Linked DNA regions of Homo sapiens. The protein of the gene in region 2 interacts with the protein of the main gene of each other region in a biochemical or structural test. Each region holds a gene or a part of one and is shown on either strand. Other genes may lie near its edges.

Evidence for each region. The genes of interacting proteins can lie anywhere in the genome.
Region 1: the proteins of PTPN18 (region 2) and MAGI1 interact in a test that uses a peptide from one of them, tested with the Homo sapiens proteins (one large-scale study listed by IntAct).

What each region holds. Positions count from the first base shown.
Region 1 is NC_000003.12:66,032,419-66,035,918, reverse strand, and holds part of MAGI1 (membrane-associated guanylate kinase, WW and PDZ domain-containing protein 1), read left to right. Parts: intron 1-3,500. UniProt on the Homo sapiens protein: Plays a role in coupling actin fibers to cell junctions in endothelial cells, via its interaction with AMOTL2 and CDH5. May regulate acid-induced ASIC3 currents by modulating its expression at the cell surface.
Region 2 is NC_000002.12:130,366,056-130,369,555, reverse strand, and holds part of PTPN18 (tyrosine-protein phosphatase non-receptor type 18), read right to left. Parts: intron 424-3,500; coding exon 355-423; intron 1-354. UniProt on the Homo sapiens protein: Differentially dephosphorylate autophosphorylated tyrosine kinases which are known to be overexpressed in tumor tissues.

The DNA of each region.
Region 1 (3,500 bases), on a different chromosome or scaffold from region 2:
ACTAGTTGCCAAATTTCTGGGAGGCGATGTCCCAGGGCTCTCTCATCATGGAGTTTAGGAAGGCTTGGTGAGATAATCAAGTGGGTTTGGAAACAGACACCTCTGAGTTGAAAGGAAACTGTAGTGTCTCCAGGTGTTAGCTCTCTTCACCCCTTGTGCACAGATTGTTCACAGCAGGGGCGAGTGTGTGGGTATGTTTCTGTGTGTGTGTGTATATGTATGTATGGATGGATGTACGTGAATCTACTTGTAATGGGATAGAAATATGATACTGATTGGGAAACCTGAATGGCCTGGAATTCATTGCAGTCTGAAAGTGACTATTTCATGTAATAATTACACAGGCACAGTTGGATCTTCTGACGTCTTCATTACCAGTAATGATGGCCCTAGAAACCATTTCACCAGTTTTCTGCTCCCTCTTCCATGTTGAGAATATGATTTAGATTGTATGACAGAATTGCTCTTAATGTGTCTTCATTACTGTGCCTTTTAAAGTCATATCAAGCAGGCTCATACTTGGTATATGGTAAAGAAAAATACTACTTTTGTGTTGTTTGCATCCCAAGTTAGCCACTTCCAGGGACACAGATCACTCTGGATACTGTCTACATGGTGGGAGAAAATTCTGTTTTTCTACTTCATGGCAGTTCTCTGGAAAGATACATGGACCAAAACTGTCTGTGACAGGACTGGATTGTGCAGGAATCAAACTCAATGGATCTGCCAGGTTGGACTTGGTTCATTTTAAATGGAGAAGACAGTCCTTTGTCAGGTTGGAGTTGGTTCATTTTAAGTGGGGAAGACAGTACTTTGTCATAAAATGCCTTTACAAAGTTATATATAATTATGTGTATTCAGGTATCATTTACCTATAGTAAAATGCATATCTTAGATATATAATTTGATGAGTTTTAAGCGATGTATGCACTCATGTTAATCACTCAAATGAAGATAGAGAACATTTTCATCACCCCAGAAATTTTTCTCATGTTCCTGTCCAGTTAATTCCCCCCTCCCCCTGCACCATAGATCTACCATAGAATAATTTTGTCTTCAACTTCATAAAAATGAACTAATGCAGTATGTACTCTTTTGTGTTTGGCTTTTGTTACTCAACAAAATATTTTGGAGATTTCGTTTTGTTGCATGTGTACTTCATTTGGTTCTTTTTTTATTGCTAAGTAATATTCCATTGTATACACATACCAGTTTGTCCTTTTGCTTGTTTATGGACATTTGGAGTATTTACCATTTTTTACTATTACGAATAAAGCTGTTATTAATGTTTCAGTTGCTCTACATCTTTGGCCATCTTTGATTTTGTTTGTCTTTTGAATTTTAGCCGTCCTAGTATATGCTTCGGAAAAATGTAATTAAGGAAACTTTGATACAGGATATAAGATGTCGCTAGTATGTATTAAGATCTTGCCTTAGAATATAATAGGTGCTTGGCTAAGCTGATGCTTCGTGGGCATTCTCTTTTTCAGTCCTTACAATTGGACTCAGATGTTAGAAGCTGAGGTTCAGAGAATTTGGGTAACTTTTCCAAGGGTCATACCACAGTGGCAGTAGAGCTGCAACCCAGCTCTGTCTGATTCCAAAGCCTGTGCTCCCAATTCCTGGGACAGTAGGTCTCCAAGTGAGGTCCTCAGACCAGTGGCATTAGTATAGTAACCTGGGAACTGGTTAGAAATCCAGATTCCTGGGCCCCACCTTAGTTCTACCAATTCAGAAGCTTTGCGGGGGATGGGGTTGGGGTTGGGGGGTGGGGTAACAACCATGGGGTGTTTTAATAAACCCTCAAGGGATTCTGATGGGCTTATTAAGGGATTCAAGGGTTCAGTTTTAAGAACTACTGTACTAGGGTATAGACCAAAATTGAGAAGATGACATCAGATGAGACAGGTGACCTGGGTTCTAGAATAAGCTCTGCCAGTCACATTCTTGGAGCCTACATTTCTCTATGCCAAAAATAAGTGGGTGAGCCTCTTCAGGTTATTTGTGCTCGTGAAATCCTTTGTTTCCATGAATCACCCAGACTCCAAAGGTTTAAAATGGTATGATTGTAGTTTCCCAAAGTGGTGTATTACAGGTCATGCTTACATATTTTTGCAGGTGAATTTTGTGGTTTTTCAAATTACCCAGGAACTGTAACTATCCCTCTACTTTTTGTGTATGTGTGGCAGTGTGGAGATAATAAAAGAGATACAATTTAAAAGCCAAACCAAACCACCACCAGACCCTTCCCCTCACTGTAATGAGGGAAATTGTGATCACATATGGTTGAATATAGTTCTTTGTGTGGTTTTTTGTTTTGGTATTGTTTTGATTCATTGGAATGTATGACAATAACTCTCATTTTAAAACACAGGGCCTTGTCTTTCAGAGTTGTTTGGTTTCTCATGAATCTCTGGTCTTGCTTCTTTCTCCTCAGTGACCTCCTTCTGGTGTGCTGTAAAATGCTTAACAACCAGTGCTAGTAGTGGGTAGACCCTGATTTATAGCATAGCTGGAGTTGGGAAGAGACGCGTATACTTGCTGTTCCCAAGCCAATGTGAGCTGGCCCCCACACACCACTGACTGCATATAAGATAGTGCCCTTGTGGTGGCTCACCTGTAATCCCAGCACCTTGGGAGGCCAAGGTGGGTGGATCACTTGAGCTCAGGAGTTTAAGACCAGCCTGGGCAACATGGTGAAGTCTCTACCAAAAAATACATAAACTAGCTGGGCGTGGTGGCGAACTTCTGTAGTCCCAGCTACTCGGGAGGCAGAGTGGGAGAATCGCTTGAGACCAGGAGGCAGAGGTTGCAGTGAGCCAAGATTGTACCACTGCACTCCAGCCTGGGTGACAGAGTGAGACCCCCATCTCACACACACACACAAAAGATAGCTCCCTGAGTAAAGTGCCATTCCCTCACCCTGTTTGTTCCTTCATAGCCTTGACACAATCTCGTATTATCTTCTGTTGTTGTTGTTGTTGTTTTTTTTTTTTTTTTTTTTGAGATGGAGTTTCGCTCTGTTGCCCAGGCTGGAGTGCAGTGGTGCGATCTCGGCTCACTGCAACCTTTGCCTCCCGGGTTCAAGCAATTCTGATGCTTAGCCTCCCGAGTAGCTGGCATTATAGGCATGTACCACCATGCCTGGCTAATTTTTTGTATTTTAGTACAGGTGGGGTTTCGCCATGTTGCCCAGGCTGGTCTCTTGAGCTCAGGCAATCTGCCTGCCGCCTTGGCCTCCCGAAGTGCTAGGATTGTAGGCGTGAGCCACCGCAACGGGCCCTGTTTCTTCTTTATTGTCTGTTTCCCCTCCCATGAGAATAGAAGTTCCATGAAAACAAGAAGCTTGTCTCTCTTGTTCACTGCTGTATTTCTCAGTGTCTAAAAAAGACCCAGCAGGGCCAGGCGTGGTGGCTCATGCCTGTAATCCCAGCACTTTGGGAGGCCGAGGTGGGTGGATCACAAGGTCAGGAGTTCAAGACCAGCCTGGCCAAGATGGT
Region 2 (3,500 bases):
GCCCTTTTGCAATGAAAAGAGATGTCTTTTGTTCTAAAATGAAACTTTTATTGCATTTATTAAGTACTAACTGTATGTATGACTTGAGAGAGTTCCCCAAGCTCTTTTGAAATGGTAAGAGAAGTAAGAATTTCAACAACCTAACCAGGCACATTTACATGACAGAGATTAACTGATTGTAGCCAAAATAAAAATGCAAAGGCTATCCCTATAGTAAGTTCTAACTATTTGCAGGCTAACACCAGAGGGTTTCCTGCAGTATGAGTGGACTGTGGGTTAAATCATTCAACCTTTTAGGCCCAACCCAAAGCCTTTCCACCCTGGGAATCTTCCTTGAAAACTCCCACAGCTCACCAGAGTGATGCAGAAAAGCCCAGTCTGCAGTGGCTCCTGCTCCTGGGCCCAGTACCGCTCACACCTTTTCTGCAAAAGGTAAGGGAGAAAAGGCAGGGAGTGAGAAGAGGGAGTCAGCTTCAGAGCTAGCTCAATCATGCCACAAGACACCCCAGGTGCTCGTGGTGGAAGCACAGGCAGCTATACTTATAACCTATAACAGACGCCAGCCAACAGAGCCATCAGATTAAACACATGCAGACTCAATGGAGGTGCGCTGCTGACCATGCAGGGGAAATACAGTCCAGGATACCCTCCCACTGTAAGCAACTAGAAACTGGACAAAATACATGAGCCACTATTTTCAGACACTGGTTGGCAGGTGTTGCAGTACTGTGGTCACTGAACAGACCACTCCGGCTTATTGCATGGAAGTGTCACCAGGCTGTAAGACATGAGTCTAATGATCCCACTGAGTTGAGCCAGAGACCATGGCTCAAGGAGGCAAAAGCAGCTAGAATTTGCAGGGCAGAGTCCTGGAAGGAACAGAGGTATGCAAATAAAAACAAAACAATAACTTGCATAGAAGTCCCCTCCTTGATTCTTTGGTTGAATAATCTGAATATATACAACATGAAACCCCATGAGGCCAGGCAAGAATAACTTACCATGAAAGAATAGTAGGGATCTGTAGGATGAACATTTCCTTGAGCTCATGATGAGAAAGAATTCACATTCCCTCTAGCTAGAGTGTAGAGGCATTATCAACTATAAGGGGCATTTAGTAGGGAACCTAGAATGACCACACATTAGAAGTACGGCTAAATTAATTCTAGAACAAAGGCTACTTGATCAACCATCCAAAAGTTCCTGAAAAGGCAAAACACTCTAAAGAAAACAATCCAACACTTACCTGTGCAAAATTCAAAATATCAAGCATCCAATAAAATTTTGCTGGACATACAAAGAAGCAGGAAAGTGTGACCCATAACCAGGAGAAAAATTAGTCAATAGGAAAGGGCCCAGAAATAACAGTTCAGGAAAGAAGCAAAAATCTTAAAATGGCTATTACAAATACACTCAAAGATGAAAAGGAAAACATGAACATGATGCAGAGTGGAATGAAAGATACAAAAAATAACCTGAATGGAATTTATAAAGAGGAAAAATAAAATATATGAAATGAAAAATCCACTAATAGCAGGGTAGACACTAGAAGAAAGGATCAATAGACATGAAAACATAGCAATATAAATAATTCAAAATGAAATGAAAAAAATGAAAAAGAATCAGTTCTCTGTAGAAATATACCAGTCTAGTGTATGTGCACGTGGAGTCCAGAAGGAAAGGAGAAAGGGGGATAACAGAAACTTTATGTAAAGAAATAATAGGTGAAAATTTTCCCAAATTCGATGAAACTATGAACCCACAAATCCAAGAAAGTCAATGAACCAGAGGGAGAATAAACCTAAACCTAAAGAAAGTCACGCCAAGGCAGATCATGATCAAATTACTGAAAAAGAATGAAGAAGAGAAAAAAAAATTTTTTTTTGAGACCCTTGCTCTGTCACCCAGGCTTGGCGTGCAGTGGCTCAATCTCGGCTCACTGCAACCTGCAACTCCCAGGTTCAAGCGATTCTCCTGCCTCAGGCTCCTGAGTAGCTGGGATTACAGACACACACCACCATGTCCAACCTTTTTTTGTATTTTTAGTAGAGACAGGGTTTCACCAGGTTGGCCGGGCTGGTCTCGAACTCCTGACCTCAAGTGATACACCTACCTTGGCCTCCCAAAGTGCTGGGATTACAGGCATGAGCCACCACACCAGGCCCCAGAAGAGAAAATCTTAAAAGCATTATGCACAAAAGGACACATCACATACTGAGGAACAAAGTTAAGAATTATAGCAACATTTTGTCAGAAACGGCAAGTCAATGCTATGATATCCTAAAAATGCTGAAAACCTTTTCAGACAAATGAAAGCTGAGGGAATTCATCACAAACAAATCTGCATTATGAGAAATATTAGAGTAAGCTCTTCAGATGCTTACAGACAGTGGCTGCTCCAGCTATTTGAGAGGCTAAGGCAGGAGGATTGCTTGAGGCCACTTCAACACCAGCCTGAGCAACATAGCCTGTATCTTAAAAAAAAAAAAAAAAAAAAAAAAAAAATTAAAATTAGCTAGGTGTGTTGGCAACATAGCTAGCCTGTATCTAAAAAAAATCTTTTTTAGTTAGCTGAGTGCAGTGGCACACCTGTACTCCCAACTACTTGGCAGGCTGAGGTGGGAGGATTGCTTAAGCCCAGGAGTTTGAGGCTGCAGTGAGTGGTGACTGCACACTGCACTCCAGCCTGTATGACAGAGTGAGACCCTATCTCTTAAATAAATAGAATAAGTAAGCTCTGCATACAAAAGGAACGTGATACAAATGGAAATACAGATCTACACAAAATAACAGGGAGAAAAGTAAGTGGCTAAATGTAAAAGATATTTCATTTTAAACATCTTTAAAAGATAATCTAGTGAATTTTATCAAACAAAGAGGAATTAATACCAGCCTTTCACAAACTCTTGCAAAAAACTGAGAGGAACCATTTCCCAACATATTGTATGAGGCTAGTATTACCCTGGCACCAAAACCAAAGACATCACAAGAAAAGAAAACTACTAACCAATATCTCACAAACATAGACACAAAAATTCTCAATGAAGTACTAGCAAAGTATTAAACACCATGACTAAGTGGGATTAATTCCAGGAATGCAAGATTGGTTCAACATATGAAAGTCAATGTCATACACCATATTAGTAGAATACAAAACACACGATCATCTGAATAGATGCAAAGAACAAAATTTGACAAAACTCAACAGCGTTTCATAAAAAAGTTCATTAGAAACTCAGTGCCCAGGATTTTTATTGGGGCACCGTCTGCACAGAATGTAGGCACACTCTGCCTAGCCTGTACCAAAATGTCAGACTACCAGCAGGAGAACAGGTGTTCTGCATAAAGCATATTGTTTGTATTAACAGTTCAGGCATAGTGAGCCACTGTTATCAGAAACCTAGGTTTCTAGAGGCCACCCAAGAGTCAACCTTACAGGAAGGCCTTTCTAAGCATAAACATTTATGCTTGCCATGTTTAACTCTTCTGCACAGCAGGGG